4 separate regions of the Homo sapiens genome follow, and all the other regions are linked to region 4. Evidence: fine-mapped expression QTL. A gene starts in region 4. Each other region holds a variant in brackets. All regions are shown on one strand. Distances are between the middles of the regions. Region 1 overlaps MPPED1 (metallophosphoesterase domain containing 1). Region 2 overlaps PACSIN2 (protein kinase C and casein kinase substrate in neurons 2). Region 3 overlaps PACSIN2 (protein kinase C and casein kinase substrate in neurons 2). Region 4 holds the start of ARFGAP3 (ARF GTPase activating protein 3).

Region 1 (5,000 bases), 640 kb after region 4:
GGAGGTGGTGGTGGTGGAGATGGTGGTGGTGGAGGTGGTGATGGAGGTGGTGGTGGTGGAGGTGGTGGTGGTGGAGGTAGTGGTGGTGGAGATGGTGGTGGTGGTGGTGGAGATGGTGGTGGTGGAGGTGGTGATGGAGGTGGTGGTGGTGGAGGTGGTGGTGGTGGAGGTAGTGGTGGTGGAGATGGTGGTGGTGGTGGTGGAGATGGTGGTGGTGGAGGTAGTGGTGGTGGAGATGGTGGTGGTGGAGGTAGTGGTGGTGGAGGTGATGGTGGAGGTAGTGGTGGTGGAGGTGGTGGTGGTGGAGATGGTGGTGGTGGAGATGGTGGTGGTGGTGGAGATGGTGGTGGTGGAGGTGGTGATGGTGGAGGTGGTGGTGGTGGAGGTGGTGATGGTGGAGGTGGTGGTGGAGGTAGTGGTGGTGGAGGTAGTGGTGGTGGAGATGGTGGTGGTGGAGGTGGTGGTGGTGGAGGTGGTGATGGTGGAGGTGGTGGTGGTGGAGGTGGTGATGGTGGAGGTGGTGGTGGAGGTAGTGGTGGTGGAGGTAGTGGTGGTGGAGATGGTGGTGGTGGAGGTGGTGGTGGAGGTGGTGGTGGAGGTAGTGGTGGTGGAGATGGTGGTGGTGGAGGTGGTGGTGGAGGTAGTGGTGGCGGAGATGGTGGTGATGGAGGTGGTGATGGAGGTGGTGGTGGTGGAGGTGGTGGTGGTGGAGGTAGTGGTGGTGGAGATGGTGGTGGTGGAGGTGGTGATGGAGGTGGTGGTGGTGGAGGTGGTGGTGGTGGAGGTAGTGGTGGTGGAGATGGTGGTGGTGGTGGTGGAGATGGTGGTGGTGGAGGTAGTGGTGGTGGAGATGGTGGTGGAGATGGTGGTGGTGGAGATGGTGGTGGTGGAGATAGTGGTGGTGGAGATGGTGGTGGTGGTGGTGGAGATGGTGGTGGTGGAGGTAGTGGTGGTGGAGATGGTGGTGGAGATGGTGGTGGTGGAGGTGGTGGTGGTGGAGGTAGTGGTGGTGGAGATGGTGGTGGTGGTGGTGGTGGTGGTGGTGGTGGTGGTGGTAGTGGTGGTGGAAGTGGTGGTGGTGGAGGTAGTGGTGGTGGTGATGGTGGTGGTGGAGGTGGTGGTGGAGGTGGTGGTGGCGGAGGTGGTGGTGGTGGAGGTGGTGGTGGTGGAGGTGGTGGTGGTGGTAGTGGTGGTGGAGGTAGTGGTGGTGGAGATGGTGGTGGTGGAGGTGGTGGTGGTGGAGGTGGTGGTGGTGGAGGTGGTGGTGGTGGAGGTAGTGGTGGTGGAGGTGGTGGTGGTGGAGGTAGTGGTGGTGGAGGTAGTGGTGGTGGAGGTGGTGGTGGTGGAGGTAGTGGTGGTGGAAGTGGTGGTGGTGGAGGTAGTGGTGGTGGAGATGGTGGTGGTGGAGGTGGTGGTGGAGGTAGTGGTGGCGGAGATGGTGGTGATGGAGGTGGTGATGGACGTGGTGGTGGTGGAGGAGGTACTAGTAATGGAGGTGGTGGTGGAAGTGCTGTTGATGGTAGAAGTGCTAGTGATGGTGGAGGTGGCGGTGTTGGAGGTGGTGATGCTGGTTACTTTATTGACATAAAGGGCCCATTCTTGTGGAATCATGTATGGGTGAAACCTACGGGATGATTCTGATGCTTTTGTTGCAAATGACTGAAAACCCAGTTCAAATGGCTTTGTGTTGGCCCGTATAATTGGGAAGTGCTGAGGTAGGGTGGGTGTCTGGTCCAGTTTGATCCAGCTGTTTCTTGGGTAACTTAACAGCTGCCGACAGCTGCCCACAGCTCCCAAGGCTAGAAGCTCACTGTTTATACACAGGGATGATAGTATCCACTTTTCTTCTTGAAAAGAGACTGCCTGCAATTGGAAGGATCTAGGTGATGTGTTCACCACTGAACTGACTAGGGGGAATATCTGGCATTGATGGGTCCAGGTCTTGGCTGGGGAGCAGGCTACCAGGCTGGGATTGCGTATAATGGTCTAGGTCCACCTGGCCCCACCCTCCCAGCTGGGGATGGGCTCAACTCTACCTGGACTCCCTGGCCAGAGCTTCCAGTATAAGCAAGAATGAGCAGCCCGCACCTGGAATCTGCTCTCTTTTGACTGGGGGTCCACACACCCCACCTGGGGGAGGGAGGATGGAGGGGCATCTTCCTGGGGGTGGGGGTGGGAGTATTGGAGAATGTATAATGTTCCCTGTGGATTTTCTTAGAAAGGCTTGGAGCAGGAAAGGTCTTAGGAAGAAGCTGATATATATATGTATATGTATATATATATATGTATTTAGCTTTCTTTTTTTTTTGGTTATGTAAATAATACTTACAGAAAAACAGAAACTGCAGGTAAGCAGAAGGAGAGAGGAAAGAGAATTGCCTGGGGACCCACAGACCGCCAGTGGGTCAAAGTCCTGGTGAGTCCCTGCCTTCCCTAGGTGGAGACCTTCCCTGGGTCTCCAGGTAGCGAGCTGGTCCTGAGGGCCCCCTGGCCCGTGGGGAGCTCCGCATTCCCTCTGACCACCCTGTACTTTCACCCGCCCTCCCTCAAACACCTGCACTTCTTCTACAGGCAGCCCTGGTTCTACGGCTGGGGCTTCAACCTCCCGCGAGGCCAAGCCCTGCTGGAGAAATGGAACCTCATTCCCGAAGGCGTAGACATCCTGATAACCCATGGACCACCACTGGGTAAGGCTCTGCTGGCCTGGCCCTCCAGCTCGCCCATCTGGGCTGGTGGGTGGGCTCTGGGATGGGGGGCTGGCTGGGCCTGTATAGGGGAGCCCTGGAGGGGTTCTGAGTCCCACTTGCTGGGGCACTGAGGACACGTCGCCCCATGGTCCCTCTTATTTCCTGAGTGCCCACTGAGAGCAGGGGGCTTGACTTGTTATCTTGTGGGCTCCTCACAACAGCACAGGAGG[C/T]CAGAATCACCTGCCCATTTGACAGGTGGGACCCTGGAGCTTCGGCTTATGCCTCTGCAGACCCCAGTCCCGGGTGCTGAAAATCACCAGAGCCCTGCACAGGGCTTCCTCCGGGCAGCCCTAACTCCCTCAGAAACCTGGGGTCCCCACTTCCTCACCCCCACCCAGCCCAACATCCCCAGGGCCTGTAGACCACCTCCCATCTCTCCTCTCTGCCCCCACCCCACCACCCAATCCACACTGAGGTCATCCCCTCATCTGCATACTGCCTCCTCCACCCCTACTGTCCCATCTGGGGGCTCTCTCAGTTCCCTTCCTTTCCTCATTCCCACAGCCTGGCCATCACCACATCCCTCCCATTCCACCTCCAAACTGCCTCCCACTCCCCCTTCTCTTCAAGCTGCTGACCCTGCCTCAGTCCAGGACAATGTCTTCTCTCTCTCTCCCATGGTCATGGTGGAGGTGGTGGTGATGGAGGTAGTGGTGATGGAGGTGGTGATGGTGGAGGTGGTGGTGGTGGAGGTGGTGATGGTGGTGGAGGTGATGAAGGTGGTGGTGATGAAGGTGATGGTGGTGACGGAGGTGATGGTGGGAGGTGGAGATGGTGGTGGTGGTGGTGGGAGGTGGTGATAGTCATAGAGGTAGTGGCAGTGGGGATGGGGTGGTGGTGGTGATGGAGGTGGTGGTGATGGTGATGGGGGTGGTGATGGATGTGATGGTGGTGGTGATAGAAGTGGTGACGTGGGAGGTGGTGGTGGTGGGAGGTAGTGATGGTGATGGAGGTGGTGGTGATGGTGATGGGGGTGGTGATGGATGTGATGGTGGTGGTGATAGAAGTGGTGGTGATGTGGGAGGTGGTGGTGGTGGGAGGTAGTGATGGTGATGGAGGTGGTGGTGGTGGTTATGGGGGTGGTGATGGTGGTAATGGAGGTGATGGTGGTGGTGATGGAGGTGGTGGTGATGGTGGGTGGTGGTGGAGGTGGTGGTGGTGGTAGTGGAGGTGGTGGTGGTAGTGGAGGTGGTGGTGGTGGTGATGGTGGTGGTGATGATGGTGGAGGTGGTGGTGGTGGTGATGGGGGTGGCGGTGATGGGGGTGATGGTGGTGATGGTGGTGGTGGAGGTGATGATGGTGGTGGTGATGGAGGTGGTGATGGGGGTGGTGGTGGTGATGGTGATGGAGGTGGCGGTGGTGATGGTGGAGGTGGTGGTGGTGGTGATGGAGGTGGTGATGGGGGTGGTGGTGGTGATGGTGATGGAGGTGGTGGTGGTGATGGTGGAGGTGGTGGTGGTGGTGATGGAGGTGGTGATGGGGGTGGTGGTGGTGATGGTGATGGAGGTGGTGGTGGTGATGGTGGAGGTGGTGGTGGTGGTGGTGATGGAGGTGGTGATGGGGGTGGTGGTGGTGATGGTGATGGAGGTGGCGGTGGTGATGGTGGAGGTGGTGGTGGTGGTGAGGGAGGTGGTGATGGGGGTGGTGGTGGTGATGGTGATGGAGGTGGTGGTGATGGCGATGGAGGTGGTAGTGGGGGTGATGAAGGTGGTGATGGAGGTGGTAATGGAGGTGGTGGGGGTGGTGGTGGTGATGGTGATGGAGGTGGTGGTGATGGTGATGGAGGTGGTAATGGAGGTGGTGGGGGTGATGGTGGAGGTGGTGATGGAGGTGGCAGTGATGATGGTGGTGATGGTGATGGAGGTGGCGGTGGTGATGGGGGTGGTGGTGGTGATGGTGATGGAGGTGGTGATGGTGGTGGTGGAGGTGGTGGTGGTGATGGTGATGGAGGTGGTGATGGGGGTGGTGGTGGTGATGGTGATGGAGGTGGTAGTGGTGGTGATGGAGGTGGTAATGGAGGTGGTGGTGGAGGTGGTGACGGAGGTGGTGGAGGTGGTGGAGGCGAAGGTCTTGCCCCTTCCAGTCCACTCGCTTTACATCAGCAGGAGGGAGTTTTCTGTATCCTTATGTGTGCCATGCCACCCCTCTGTGACCCTCTGTGGTTCCCTCAGTCCTCTGAATGAAGTTCAGTCTCCCAGCAGTTCGGCCCATATCAGTGTCTTGCTCCCACCGCCACCTCCAGAAACCCACCAT
Region 2 (5,000 bases), 120 kb after region 4:
CTTCCCCTTCCACCATGATTGTAGTTTCCTGAGGCCTCCTAGCCATGCTTCCTGCTAAGCCTGTGAAACTGAGTCAATTAAACCTCTTTTCTTCATAAATCACCCAGTCTCAGGTGGTTCTTTATAGCAATGTGAGAACGAACTAATACAGGGGTACTCATACATTGCTAGTACAAGTCTGAAAAAGACTAGAGCAATTCAGTGTGACATAACTACTAAAAACTACTGACCTGGAGAGAGATCCAGAGTACAACACTCACTCACTGGCTCATTCATTCATTCATCCCACAATGAGCACCTACAACCTGCCATGCACTTTTTTCAATTATTTGTTATCAAAAGAGCTTAAATTCAGGGGTGTGTAAGCTCAAGAGAAGTGAAAATAACAAGTTGCTGAATAATGCCTACAATAGGTCCCTCTCTTTTTTTAAAACATGCATTTGTGAGGGTCAGGAGAAAGTTGTGGAAGGCTCTGCTACAACAAGCAGTCAACAGTTGATTACCACCTAGCTGTTTATACATCTTCTGTTTCTCTTGGCATGAGCACACAGTAACAAATCCAATAACCTATAACGCTGAGAAATCTAACAGAAAATATCAGTCTTCGTTTACACGCAACACAAGAAGAGCACAGGGCCCACACTGCGTTGGTGGCAGAGCCAAAAGTCCACCCTCATCCTGCTGAATGACTGCAAAGCTGGGCTCTTCACTCCCAGATGACAGTGTTTCTCCTCACTCACATTCACCCACCCACACAGAGCAGAAAGCAGGAAGGTTTCCATGCCCGCACTGACGGTAAGTTGTGGGAGGCAGTCGGGCAACATTTCTGGAGTTCCTATGAATGATGTGCTATGCTTTTTGGCCTGCAGACGTTCAGGTGGACTCAGATCTGAGACATATTCAAAAGTATGTTTGCATCCTGGCCCTTGGTTTATGTATTTCCTCTTCCCTAGGGCATTCTACAAAGCATTTCCAAAAAGGCTGGTCCCTGCCCCTTAACTGGTTCCTCCTCCTGGCAACAGCATTCCAGCTGGGCTTTGGGAAATCTCCCTACTCCTTCAAAACAATTGTTTCTCCCCTGGCTTCTTTTCAGGTTTCCTATGAGTCTATGAGGTCACTCCACCCAATGTCTTCCAAGGAACTGATTATGCTCAGGTTAGCTGGTGACCTCAGAACTCTGACCAGTATAATGAACTGTGACAGAAAGGAATGCATCCTGTTGACCAATCCCCCTGCAGTATAGCACAGACAACAGGGGTACTACAAAGCTCCATTGCCTAGGAGAAACAGCCAGCACCTGTACTGGCTGAGACATAGAAACTTCAAAAACAATTCAAATGTCCATACCACTGCCCAAGGCCCAATGATGGTTCATCTGTTTGTGTTTTTATTTATAGATTTACAGAAATATAGAGATATTTGGCCAGGTGCGGTGGCTCATGCCTGCAATCTCAGCACTTTGGGAGGCAGAGGCAGGTGGATCACCTAAGATCGGGAGTTTGAGACCAGCCTGGTCAACATGGTGAAACCCCATCTCTACTAAAAATACAAAAATTAGCCAAGCGTGGTAGCAGGCGTCTGTAATCCCAGCTACTCCAAAGGCTGAGGCATGGGAATCACTTGAACATGGGAGGTGGAGGTTGCAGTGAGCCGAGATCATGCCACTGCACTCCAGCCTAGGCAACAAAGCAAGACTCCCTCTCAAAAAAAAAAAAAAAAAAAAAGGAAAGAAAAGAAAAAAGAAATATACAGATATTTAACTAAATATAAAAACAGTCAAAAAACAAAGAAAGAAGTAATTGGCCCAGGTCAGATACCTCCTTCTCTATGAATTCTCTGGCTCCTTCCTCCTGGGAGTATATGCTCTGTCTTAAGGCACCTGCCGCTTTCTAACTTGGGTTATAGTTATTTAAACACAGACATTGCCTCCTCTAGGCTGGGAGATTCCTGAGGACAAAATCCCTAAGTTATTAATGGATTAACGGATCCCCCTTGCATCCTGACCACATGCTACAGACTGATATGTTGCCCAGTGTGCTGAAACACGTTTGTCTGCAAACCCCTGCTTATGCCAACTGTACTTGTCATTGTAAATTTACATACACACATTTATTACACATACGCACATACATACAATACACATATAGTATAAATACACATACATGCTTAACTATATAAACCTATGAAATAAGCGCATCATTGTTTCCATTAAAACTATTAAAACAAGTTTCTATTAAAACAAGTTGTTAATTAAAAAAAAAAGAAAGAAAGAAACAATCTGCTAACTAAATTATAGGTATGGCAAAACAAGTATAGAGTATTGGGTGAAAATT[T/C]GTAAAATCTATAATTCCACATTCATGTTGCTTCTAAGTTCTCAATTGTCATTAAGAAAATTAATTAAATTAATTAATGGCCACACACAGTAGCTCATGCCTATAATCCCAGCACTTTGAGAGGCCAAGGCATGAGGACTGCTTGAGCCCAAGAGTTCAAGAACAGCCTGAACAACATGGCAGGACCTTGTCTCTACTAAAAATCAAAAACACTAGCTTGTCATGGTCATTAGGAGGTCAAGGCTGCATGATCACACCACGACACTCCAGCCTGGGCGACAGAGAGAGACCCTCCCTCAAAAAAACAAACAACCCTCTCCCTCTCCCTCTCCCCCTCCCCCTCCCCCTCTCCCTCTCCCTCCACGGTCTCCCTCTGATGCCGAGCCAAAGCTGGACGGTACTGCTGCCATCTCGGCTCACTGCAACCTCCCTGCCTGATTCTCCTGCCTCAGCCTGCCGAGTGCCTGCGATTGCAGGCGCGCGCCGCCACGCCTGACTGGTTTTCGTTTTTTTTTGGTGGAGACGGGGTTTCGCTGTGTTGGCCGGGCTGGTCTCCAGCTCCTAACCGCGAGTGATCCGCCAGCCTCGGCCTCCCGAGGTGCCGGGATTGCAGATGGAGTCTCGTTCACTCAGTGCTCAATGGTGCCCAGGCTGGAGTGCAGTGGCGTGATCTCGGCTCGCTACAACCACCTCCCAGCCGCCTGCCTTGGCCTCCCAAAGAGCCGAGATTGCAGCCTCTGCCCGGCCGCCACCCCGTCTGGGAAGTGAGGAGCGTCTCTGCTTGGCCACCCATCGTCTGGGATATGAGGAGCCCCTCTGCCTGGCTGCCCAGTCTGGAAAGTGAGGAGCGTCTCTGCCCGGCCGCCATCCCATCTAGGAAGCGAGGAGCGCCTCTTCCCCGCCGCCATCCCATCTAGGAAGTGAGGAACGTCTCTGCCCGGCCGCCCATCGTCTGAGATGTGGGGAGCACCTCTGCCCCACCGCCCTGTCTGGGATGTGAGGAGCGCCTCTGCTGGGCCGCAACCCTGTCTGGGAGGTGAGGAGCGTCTCTGCCCGGCCGCTCCGTCTGAGAAGTGAGGAAACCCTCTGCCTGGCAACCGCCCCGTCTGAGAAGTGAGGAGCCCCTCCGTCCGGCAACCACCCCGTCTGGGAAGTGAGGAGCGTCTCCGCCCGGCAGCCACCCCGTCCGGGAGGGAGGTGGGGGGGGTCAGCCCCCCGCCCGACCAGCCGCCCCGTCCGGGAGGTGAGGGGCGCCTCTGCCCGGCCGCCCCTACTGGGAAGTGAGGAGCCCCTCTGCCCGGCCAGCCGCCCCGTCCGGGAGGGAGGCGGCGGGGGGGGTCGGCCAGCCGCCCCGTCCGGGAGGGAGGTGGGGGGGTCAGCCCCCCGCCCGGCCGGCCGCCCCGTCCGGGAGGTGAGGGGCGCCTCTGCCCGGCTGCCCCTACTGGGAAGTGAGGACCCCTCTGCCCGGCCAGCCGCCCCGTCCGGGAGGGAGGTGGGGGGGTCAGCCCCCCGCCCGGCCAGCCGCCCCGTCCGGGAGGTGAGGGGCTCCTCTGCCCGGCCGCCCCTACTGGGAAGTGAGGAGCCCCTCTGCCCGGCCAGTCGCCCCGTCCAGGAGGGAGGTGGGTGGGTCAGCCCCCCGCCCGGCCAGCCGCCCAGTCCGGGAGGGAGGTGGGGGGTCAGCCCCCCGCCCGGCCAGCCGCCCCGTCCGGGAGGGAGGTGGGGGGATCAGCCCCCCGCCTGGCCAGCCGCCCCGTCCGGGAGGTGAGGGGCGCCTCTGCCCGGCCGCCCCTACTGGGAAGTGAGGAGCCCCTCTGCCCGGCCAGCCGCCCCGTCCGGGAGGGAGGTGGGGGGGTCAGCCCCCCTTCCGGCCGGCCGCCCCGTCCGGGAGGTGAGGGGCGCCTCTGCCCGGCCGCCCCTACTGGGAAGTGAGGACCCCTCTGCCCGGCCAGCCGCCCCGTCCGGGAGGGAGGTGGGGGGACAGCCCCCCGCCCGGCCAGCCGCCCTATCCAGGAGGTGAGGGGCGCCTCTGCCCGGCCGCCCCTACTGGGAAGTGAGGAGCCCCTCTGCCTGGCCAGCCGCCCCGTCCGGGAGGGTGGTGGGGGGGTCAGCCCCCCGCCCGGCCAGCCGCCCCATCCGGGAGGTGAGGGGCGCTTCTGCCCGGCCGCCCCTACTGGGAAGTGAGGAGCCCCTCTGCCCGGCCACGACCCCGTCTGGGAGGTGTGCCCAGCGGCTCATTGGGGATGGGCCATGATGACAATGGCGGTTTTGTGGAATAGAAAGGCGGGAAGGGTGGGGAAAAAATTGAGAAATCGGATGGTTGCCGGGTCTGTGTGGATAGAAGTAGACATGGGAGACTTTTCATTTTGTTCTGTACTAAGAAAAATTCTTCTGCCTTGGGATCTGTTGATCTGTGACCTTATCCCCAACCCTGTGCTCTCTGAAACATGTGCTGTGTCACTCAGGGTTAAATGGATTAAGGGCGGTGCAAGATGTGCTTTGTTAAACAGATGCTTGAAGGCAGCATGCTCGTTAAGAGTCATCACCACTCCCTAATCTTAAGTACCCAGGGACACAAACACTGCGGAAGGCTGCAGGGTCCTCTGCCTAGGAAAACCAGAGACCTTTGTTCACTTGTTTATCTGCTGACCTTCCCTCCACTATTGTCCT
Region 3 (5,000 bases), 54 kb after region 4:
TCCCTCCTGCTCTCATACTCCATAAGCATCTTCTTTGTGGGAACTGGATCCCCTCTCCCCTCTTCCTCTTTTTATTTTTCCCCTATATCTACAGGGTTGGGGGAATGCAGGAGGTACTCCTTCCGAATATGCATTAAATAGCTCTATTCAGTATCATGTCCCTGTGGGTAACCTCTCCTCCCACAGGTCAGTATGGGTTCCTTCATTCGTCCAGCAAGCATCCAAGTGCAGCAACGTCCACTACCCCATGCTGCCTTTCCTGCCCTTCCCCCTGGGCAAACCTAGCAAATCCTACGGCACCTGGCATGATGACCTGCCTAGTGTCTACCTTATTCCTCCAAATGTCACAGCCAAAGGCTCCTGGAGGACAGGGCCACACAGAAGATGGCTCTGGAATGACATATTCCAGTTAGTATCTTTTGGTGGGAAGGAGTAAAATTAAACACAAAAAACTTTTCCACCTCAAGACCACAAGGCTTTCTTTGGAAAAGTGTCCTTCCATGGGAAAGAGGAACTTGCTACCTGCCTGGGAAGATGTGCAGTTGGCAGTGTGCACCTGAGTCTCTCAGATCCCAGCAGGCCATCACTGAGCAGTCACTCCGCCACTCAACGAACATCCGTCATGGAGAAGGCGGACGACCACAGCACTGCGGAGTTGATACCAGCTGGAGAGTAATTTCAGGGACAGCATCACAAGCTGAGCAGAGCCCGCCTGAGCATTTTCAGGCAAAAGGAGATGTTCTTGTCTACTGACATTATTGCAGTTGAGAATTTAACAGGGAGCATAAGAGCTTAATTACTGGACTTGTTAAAGCTAGTTGATTTAATATATGCTGACAATATACACTGGCAACGTTCACCTGAATGTTTTTTAACAAGCAGCTGAAGAATTCTGTAATAGCACTATATTTAGCTACATAATTTTCCCAGCAGTTTCTGCCACCAAGTGGGTAATGAAGACAATGTCGCCAAGGGCACCGCAGGAACAGACATTGACTGTGCACACCGACTCCCTCAGCTCCCGTGTCAGAGGGAAGGGCCCCCACCAGCCTTGCCCTGATGCCCTAAAACACTTAACGTTTATTCATTCTTTTAACCCTCACAATACTAGGATATGGGTACCGTTATTACCCCCATCTTATAGATTGGGAAATGAAGGCAAAGAAAAATCAGTAACTTGCCCAAAGCCATACACAGAAGTAAGTGATCAGGTCAGCAGTCAAACCCAGACCTCCTGGCTCCAAAGCAATGTCTTCACCTGTCCCCATTGCCTCTCCTGGCCTATCCCTCACAAGGAAGGGCCTTTTGAGTGTGCTTGTCCTGTCTGCACCACCACCAAGCTCAAGGCAGGGAATGATTGGTGCCAGCCAGCAATGTCACTACAGTTACAAAAAAGAGGCTCCCCATAACTGGAAAGGTTTCTATCTATAGTTTTGGTTCAGTGTTGAGAACAAGGGCCTGCACTTCTAAAGGCTGGAGAGCTCACAGGAAGGCTCTCACAGCTGCTGCCAGCTCCATAAGCGCTCCTGCACTAATGAGGCCACAGCCTCTCTGGGGGGGCCAGCCAGCGGGACCTGATTACTGTGAACCTGTACCTGCAAGCGGGGGCAAAGGCAGTCCTGAATTCTAGCACTATTCCAGGGGCACCTCCAAACCACGTCGTGTAACTGCTGGTCCTGCTTCATCTAGTTTCACGGCCAACCTCCTGCCATGCTGTGAGATGTGGCTGGCGACCTGTTTGGCTGTCACTGCTCCTGTCACTCTTGCTGTCTTAAGTGAAATATTTCTCAGGCAGATGTGCCTCTCCGGCTGCTGAAATTTGAGCTGGGTGCCCCCCTCACCCCTCCAGAAGGATGCCACCAGCCGAGGGGTGGCAGCAGAGAGGACCTGCATGCTCTGTGCCTTTCCACATTTATTTCTGCTGTGGCAGAAGCCAGCTTCTGGAGGGCAGGAACTCAGTCTGTCACATCCCTTGCCTAGCACACTACAGGTACTCAGTTAACACATAATTTTTTTTTTTTTGAGACGGAGTCTTGCTCTGTC[A/G]CCCAGGCTGGAGTGCAGTGGCGCTGTCTCGGCTCACTGCAAGCTCCGCCTCCCGGGTTCATGCCATTCTCCTGCCTCAGCCTCCCAAATAGCTGGGGTTACAGGTGCCCACCACCACGCCCAGCTAATTTTTTGTATTTTTAGTAGAGATGGGGTTTCACCATGTTGGCCAGGCTGGTCTTGAACTCCTGACCTCAAGATCCACCCGCCTCGGCCTCCCAAAGTGCTGGGGTTACAGACATGAGCCACTGCGCCCGGCCATGCAAAGCCTCTTTCCATGAAGGCCAAGAAAGCTCCAGGGGTTTTGCCACAGGGACAAAATTAGACCAAAAATTGACTTCCTATAGTCTCAGCTACTCAGTAGGCTGAGGTGGGAGGATGGCTTGAGCCCAGGAGATCAAGGCTTCAGTGAGCCATGATGGTGCCACTGAACTCCAGCCTGCGCTCTCGAGACCTCAACTGTTAAAAAAAAAAAAAAAAAAAAGATGGACTTTCCATTAACTAGCAGGAAGGAAAAGTAAGTGGGACTCAGGAACAACACCCTCCGCCTCCACAAAAAAACAAAAATAATCCAATCAGGAAGAGGGCCACTCATGGGTACAGACTGGCGGCAGATGCTCCAGCAAGTTTGAAGGCATTTGGCCCTCTGGCCACTTGCCTGTGTTGTCCAGCATGATGTCAAATCACAGCCCTCCTTGTTTCTACATAAAACTCAACAGTAAAGTGCCTCGTAGGATAAGCTGAGCAATTAGTGTCTGTCTCTCCCACTCACACCATGGCAAACATAAAAAGGAAGGTGATCCCCAAGACCTTTCATAAACACCCCTAACCTCTTTAAGTATCAGCCTTTCCTAGCAAGGTAAGTTCACTGCCTTCGATGATGGCTAAGGCATACCTGAACTGCCTAAAAACAAGTGTCCAAACCTTTTCTGCTGCTATCTAGGTCTGACTACAAATGCATGGCTGGTTTGGGGGTATGTTCACCTCAGTTCCCAACCTCCACCAAAAAAACCAAAGGGCCTGCCAGACACTATTGGCCTGGCCACTTCATTCACTGGAAGAAAGCAGGTGCATTACCTCCCAGAAGCTGTCGCTGGACACTTCTACTCCAACGGAATCATCATATGTGACAGACATTTTTTCAAAGGCTGAGGGAGCAGCAAAGTATACTTAGTCAGGGGTCAACTTCGAACGCTCAAAATCTGTAGACAAACCTATAAATGAAAAACATATAACATAGTGGTTTTTAAATTCCCAAGGTAAAGAAACAAGTCATCTCTATTTCACAACTTCCCGTTTCTAATCACTGCCTTCAGTACAGGGCGGTCTATAATATTTCCTTTAGGTGGCAGAAAGCCAGTAGACTCTAATCAACTCTGGGCACATATGTGTATGTCTGTGTGTGTGCATGGTGGGTGATGGGGGCGAGGGGTGCATGTGCATAAAAGGCAGAGTCCTTGGATCTCTGGGCTTGCCCATCCCGACCTACTCTACCTAACTGGTAGGGCTAGGACCCGGGATAAAACGTGAGTGGAGGTAATCCCACCTTTGACACCCTACTCCCCTCTCCAGAGTGGCTACCACATTCCACTTGTGTGAGCACTGTCCCCACTCAACTCCACCTTTACTGACTCCGCCACTGAAGCCACAAATTCAGACCAGTTTGTTCTGACACTGTCTGTGTGTGGCTCAGCTGGAAAGCTAAATGGATCACTTCTGAATAACAGACTCAGCAATCTACAATCCAGGCAAGGGTAAAGGCGGCAATTATTTCCCCTGTTGGAGGGAAGAAACTGAAGGACTCCCATAAGCACAAACCACACCTTGCTAGTGTGATGACCTGTCCGCAGCCGAGATGAAACTGTCTGACTTTTTGGTAAAAAGGTGACCCCACCTTTCTTTACCTTACCCTGTGTTCAGATCACACAGCCAGAGATCCAAGACCTTCCTCACTGCCACAGTCAACAGTCTAAAGCCTTAGCTTAGCAACAGGAAGGGGTGAGACAGAATGGCCAACTTGTTTTGAGCACCAACAAGGCACAAGACTTTGTTCTAGGTCCTGTTTCATATGTAATCACATGAATCTTCATGATTCTCTGTGACACAGCCTGGAATTGGAGCAAGAAACACAGACTCCAGAGTCAGACTACCTAGGCTTAAATCCCAGACCCATTACTTATGAGGTGGGCAACAGTGGGCAAGTTACCTACCCTCTCTGTGCCTCGCTTGCCTTATCTGGAAAAAAGAGACAATAGGCCGGGCACAGTGGCTCATGCCTGTAATCCCAGCACTTTGGGAGGCCAAGGCGGGCGGATCACCTGAGGTCAGGAGTTCAAGACCAGCCTGACCAAGACGGAGAAACCCCGTCTCTACTAAAAATACAAAATTAGCCAAGCGTGGTGGCATGTGCCTATAATCCCAGCTACTCAGGAGGCTGAGGCAGGAGAATCGCTTGAACCTGGGAGGTGGAGGTTGCGGTCAGCCAAGATCGTGCCATTGCACTCCAGCCTGGGCAACAAGAGCGAAACTCCGTCTCCAAAAAAAAAAAAAAAAAAAAAAAAGAGAGACACTAATGGAACCTACAACACAGAATTGCTGCAAGTCAAATATATACAAGAGCTTAGAACAATACTTGGCCCTTAGTAAGTGCTACGAACTTACTAAGTACTGTTATACACCCTTAGTAAGTGCTACGAACATAGTAAATAATGAATTATTGTTGCCACTATTATTATTGCATAGTAATTATGATTACTATCATTACTTCTGTCTCTATTTTAAAGTCAAGACAATTGATGTTCAGTAATTTGCCCACGGTTGTCCAAGTAATGGCTGGTGGAGACTAGTATTTGACACCAGCTCTGCCTGCTTGCTAAGGTAATATTCTCTCCATTACACCAAGATGTTTTCCAAAAACAATCTCAAAGTTAAGTAAATCAGGCTTCCTACAACCTAAA
Region 4 (5,000 bases):
CTCATTGCTTTTATTAATCTTATTACAGAATATAAATTTTTCACAGGTGTGTTCTTCATCATAAAAACAGCTGCCATTTATTGAAGACTATTATATGCAGTTCCTACTCTAAGTGTTTTTCTTGGATTATTCCATTTAATCTTCACAATAACCCTCTGAGTCAGGTCTAGTTCATGCCCCATTTTCAGAGGAGGAAAAAAGGGACAAAGTGGTCAAGTAACCTGTCCAAGGGTGACATACCTAGAAAGTAGCAGTTTGGACAATACAAGCCTGTCTCTCAAAAGCCTCTTGATATAAAGACATTGATTTCTAATTTAAAATTATCTTTGAATTAAATCAAAGAGAATACATGTTGATGTTTCTGAGATAAAGGTGACAAAAAAATATAGTTTACACATTGCTAACCGCAGATCCTAATCTTGACTAAGTTACACAGGACCCACTCTTTATAAACACATCAATCTAAATTTAAAAATCAAGGCTGGGCGCGGTGGCTCACGCCTGTAATCCCAGCACTTCAGGAGGCCGAGGCGGGTGGATCACTTGAGGCCAGGAGTTTGAGACCAGAGTGACTGACATGGTGAAACCTCGTCTCTACTAAAAATATAAAAATTACTTGAGTGTAGTGGTGGATGCCTGTAATCCTGGCGACTCAGGAGGCTGAGGCAGAATTGCTCAAACCCAGGAGGCAGAGGTTGCAGTGAGCTGAGATCGCACCACTGCACTCCAGCCTGGGCGACAGAGCAAGGCTCTGTCTCAAAAAAATTAAAATTAAAACGTTAAAAAAAAAAAAAAGAACATTAAGGCCAGCATGGTGGCTCATGCCTGTAATCCTAGCACTCTGGGAGGCCAAGGCAGGAGGAGGCAGGAGGACTGCTTGAGCCCAGGAATTTGACACCAGCACGGGCAACATAGCAAGACCCTGTCTCTACAAAAATTAATTAATTAATTAATTAATAATAACAATTAGCTGGGCGTGGTGGTACAGCCCTGTGGTGTCAGCCTCATCAGGAGGCTGGGAAGGAAGGATGGCTTGGGCTGGGTAGGTCAAGGCTGCAGTGAGCTAGGATCAAGGCACTACACTTCAGCCTGGGTGACGGGGTGAGACCCTGTCTCTAAAAAAATAAATAAATAAAAATGTGAAAATCAAGAGAACAGTAAAGAAACGGGCACTGGAGAATTCCTGGAGCCTTTCTCTTAACTTTCCCACATCCATCAGACATCACCTCCAATAAACTGTTTCCTTCCTCACCTAGGCTGGAAAAAATATGGGCTCCCCTGTACCATCAAGACTTAAAACCAACAGAAACACCTATTTTGTAACACTCGGGAACTTTCTATGCCAGCATATCGAGGTTCAATAACAGCTGTTCCCTTCGGGAAGTGACAGTGGGAACCAGACAACACTCGTGTCACAGGAGGGGCGGGGAGAGCCCACGCTGACGCGACAGCCCTTTGCACTCTCCAAGTCCCTCTCCGACCCGACGTGTCACCTTAGCCCCCTGCGTCACCCCAACGCCTCCAGCCAGCTGCGCAAAGCTGTAAAAGTTCCAGGGAGAGAACAGCCTCTGGAGACAAAAAAAAAAAGGAAACCTCCATCTCCAAAGAGAACCGAGGAGAGGGAGGAGGCTGTGGTGAGCCTCCCTGGCCAAAGCGACAAAAGCTGGAAGCCAAAGCGTAGACTACTCGGCAACTTTATCAGAAGAGAAACTGAGGCAGGCACCGCAAGGCCCGAGGAGCCAAGCCGGCTCCAACAGGCGGGGTCGAGCTCCAGGGTGGCGCTGGGGGAGCCGCGCTTTCCCCGCATCCGGCGCCAGCAGCCGGGGTTTCCGAGCCGGGAGCTCCCTCCTCGCAGCGCCCCCGAGGATGCCCCCGCCCCCGCCTCCGCTCAGAGCCGCCGGTGCTCGCCCCCCGCCCCAAGAGCTCGCCGGGGGGTGTGCCCGCGCCGCCGCCCCCGGGAACGCTCCCCGGCTCGCGTGAGGACCCCCGCGCTGCGGCCTCCCGCCCGGGCCTCTCAGCTGCCCGGCCCCGCCCGCCCCGGCCCGGCCAGGCTGCCGCGGCCCCACAGTGCGACGTGTCACAGGCCGCGCCGGCCCCGCCTCCCAAGCCACGGGCACTGGCGCCCGCGGGGCCTCCCGCCGGTTCCCGCAGGGATGCCAGGCAGGCCCGCACTCGCCCGCGGCCGCTACCTTGTTAGTGGGCACCGAGCGGAGGCGCTTGAAGATGGTCAAGATGTCCTGCTTGCTGGGGTCCCCCATCGTCAGCTGTGAGCCGCGGCGCAGCTGGCCCAGCCAACCGGTAAGAGTCGACGAAAAGCGGCTACCGCCTCAGCAGGAGCGACGAGGCCGCGGGGGCGGGGCTGCGCGTAACGGTCAGGCTCCGCCCCAATCCCCGCCCACGACCGGGCCCGTCCACCGCCGGGGCGCAGGCGCCGCTCGCTTTCCCTCCCCGCCCTCGCTTCAGCCGCGCCGCTGGCCCGACCCCAGGCGCTGCACGCGCGTGCGCAGGAGGCTCGCGCGCCATTTGCGGCGCGGCTCCACGCCCTTAGCGCTGGGCGAAGCCGGGCCCGGGTGTGGCTGCCTGCCACGCGCGCTGCCATAGGATCCACCAACGTTTCGCCTGGTCGATCGCCATTTCGCCTAACGGGCTGCTTCCATGGAAAGGTCAGAGGCAGGGGAAGGGGCGCACGCGCCCTCCTTCGGCACGAGACGGACGGAGGGCCCGTGCCTTGACGCCGGACCTTAGCTGGTGGCCTTCCCTTTTTTTTTTTTTTTTTTTGAGACGGAGCCTCGCTCTGTCCCCCAGGCTGGAGTGTAATGGCGCGATTGCGGCTCCTTGCAACCTCCCTGGTTCAAGCGATTCTCCTGCCTCAGCCTCCCGAGTAGGTGGGATTACAGGCGTACATCACCACGCCCGGCTAATTTTTGTATTTTTAGTAGAGACCAGGGTTTCACCATGTTGCCCAGGCTGGTCTCGAACTCCTGACTTCAGGTGATCCACCCACTTCGGCCTTCCAAATTGCTGGGATTACAGACGTGAGCCGCCGCGCCCGACTCTTTTTAATTCTTGCCCTCAGCTCACGCCAGGCCCTGGGTGGAAAGCTTTCTTTGCCCGGAAACTGGCTTTCTGAAACCAAGGGCTTTTGTGTCACGTTCATGGAGAGATGGCAGTGCGGGTTGAGGCAGAAGTGCTCAGTCAGAACTGATGAGTCCAGATGAGAAGCTTGACTTTTAACCCCGGCCCTCGGGGCTGCACCCTACCCTCTGGGAAACAATTCCAGCCAGAAGAGTTTACACTCAGCAGAAGGTGCCTCTGTCACCACAATGGGTGTGGAGCCACTGGAAAGAGGTTGGGTGATAGTGAGGAAGGACAGCAGGTTTTGGCATCAAAGGCACTACCTTGGCCTCAATCCCAGTTCAGCCAGCTGCTTCCTAGCTCTGTGGCCTTGGTCAAGACACTTACCTTCTCTAAAGCATGGTTTATTTGCAGTCTCAGGGGCTCATGCCTGTGATCCCAGCACTTTGGGAGGCTGAGGCGGGAGGATCACTTGAGCTCAGGAGTTCAAGACCAGACTGGATAATATGGTGAAACCCCGTCTCTATAAAAAAATGCAAAAATTAGCCGGGCATGCTGGCATGGGCCTGTAGTCCTAGCTACTTGGGAGGCTGAGGTGGGAGGATCGCTTTAGTCCAGGAGGTCGAGGCTGCAGTGAGCCAAGATCGCACCACTGCACTCCAGCATGGGCGACAGACCAAGACCCTGTCTCAAAAAGTAAAATAAAATAAACCATGGTTTATTCATCTGTACAAAGAAATTAAAGAATCAGTGCTGAGTAGCACAGGTGAGCAGCTTCCTAGGGATATCCTGAAGAGCCTTTGGTGGAGGCTTTCTACTGTTAGAAGTCAGGAAATGTACACTCCACCTATCTGCTTGGAGACCCTCGGTGGCAGTTGGGAGCTTGCAGACAATGTAACTTATAAACCCAAAGCTGCAACTTTTCCAAGAAAGGGAAATTGATTATCTTCCAGAAAAGTACATTACTTTTGCAGGTAGCTCTGATGGTTTAAAAGTTCTTCCTGTATTGAGTCGAAGTATAACACCTGTGCTTTGTGTCCACCGGGTACTAGTTTGGCCTTATGCAGAATACCGGGCATGTTTATGAGCAGTTTTATCCTTCCTGATGGGAATGGGAATGATGGTCCCATTTACTACTTGGAGCTGAAATCTTACTAAGTTATATTATCAGAGTAGTGCAGTCTAGCCCATTCTCCACCATAGAGATTGAGGAGAGGGAAACAAAAGCAGTAAATTATAGACAGTATCTACACGAATAGGGGAGGAAGGGGTAGGAGGTACCATTTATACACTATGGTTGCTTAAGTGTTCTTCATAGAACTTAGCATCTAATACTATAACATATAATATTCTATCTATATGTTATCTGGCTCTAATTGAATACAAAAATATATATTTCTGGCCGGGGGCGGTGCCTCACACCTGTAATCCCAGCACTTTGGGAAGCTGAGGTGGGTGGATCATGAGGTCAGGAGTTCGAGACCAGCCTGACCAACATGGTGAAACCCCATCTCTACTAAAAATACAAAAATTAGCCAGGCATGGTGGTGGGCACCTGTAATCCCAACTACTCAGAGGCTGAGGCAGGAGAATCGCTTGAATCTGGGAAGCAGAGGTTGCAGTGAGCCGAGATCACACCACTGCACTCCAGCCTAGGCGACAGAGCGGGACTCTGTCTCAAAAAAAAAAAAAAAAAATATATATATATATATATATATATATATATATATATATTTCTTGAAATCAAATGTTTTTTCTCCTTTTTCTTTTGAGGAGTCTCGCCGGAGTGCAGTGGTGTGATCCTGACGCACTGCAACCTCTGCCTCCCAGGTTCAGCCGAGTCTCCTGCCTCAGCCTCCTGAGTAGCTGGGATTATAGGCGCCCGCAACCATGCCTGGCTAATTTTTTTTTTTTTTTTTTTTTTT

What was found. PIP is the estimated chance that this variant, and not a neighbour inherited with it, causes the effect.
Region 1: its variant is the best candidate, but not a certain one, in a credible set for the expression of ARFGAP3 in substantia nigra (GTEx, PIP 0.85).
Region 2: its variant is the best candidate, but not a certain one, in a credible set for the expression of ARFGAP3 in whole blood (TOPMed, PIP 0.59).
Region 3: its variant is the best candidate, but not a certain one, in a credible set for the expression of ARFGAP3 in whole blood (TOPMed, PIP 0.79).

The regions. Positions count from the first base shown.
Region 1 is chr22:43,495,664-43,500,663 of GRCh38, forward strand. It overlaps MPPED1 (metallophosphoesterase domain containing 1), which reads left to right. Exons shown (of 7, transcript NM_001044370.2): 5 at 2,572-2,687. Among named protein-coding and RNA genes, the nearest start is that of EFCAB6-AS1, 18 kb to the right of the region's middle. The variant C/T (reference allele first, on the strand shown) is at 2,918.
Region 2 is chr22:42,977,821-42,982,820 of GRCh38, forward strand. All of the region lies in intron 1 of PACSIN2 (protein kinase C and casein kinase substrate in neurons 2), which reads right to left. Among named protein-coding and RNA genes, the nearest start is that of PACSIN2, 35 kb to the right of the region's middle. The variant T/C (reference allele first, on the strand shown) is at 2,334.
Region 3 is chr22:42,908,901-42,913,900 of GRCh38, forward strand. PACSIN2 (protein kinase C and casein kinase substrate in neurons 2) reads right to left here. Exons shown (of 11, transcript NM_001184970.3): 2 at 3,121-3,257. The coding sequence starts at 3,180. Among named protein-coding and RNA genes, the nearest start is that of ARFGAP3, 54 kb to the left of the region's middle. The variant A/G (reference allele first, on the strand shown) is at 2,044.
Region 4 is chr22:42,854,925-42,859,924 of GRCh38, forward strand. ARFGAP3 (ARF GTPase activating protein 3) reads right to left here and starts at 2,349. Exons shown (of 16, transcript NM_014570.5): 1 at 2,190-2,349. The coding sequence starts at 2,258. RefSeq lists an enhancer at 1,508-2,352 and a silencer at 1,875-2,624.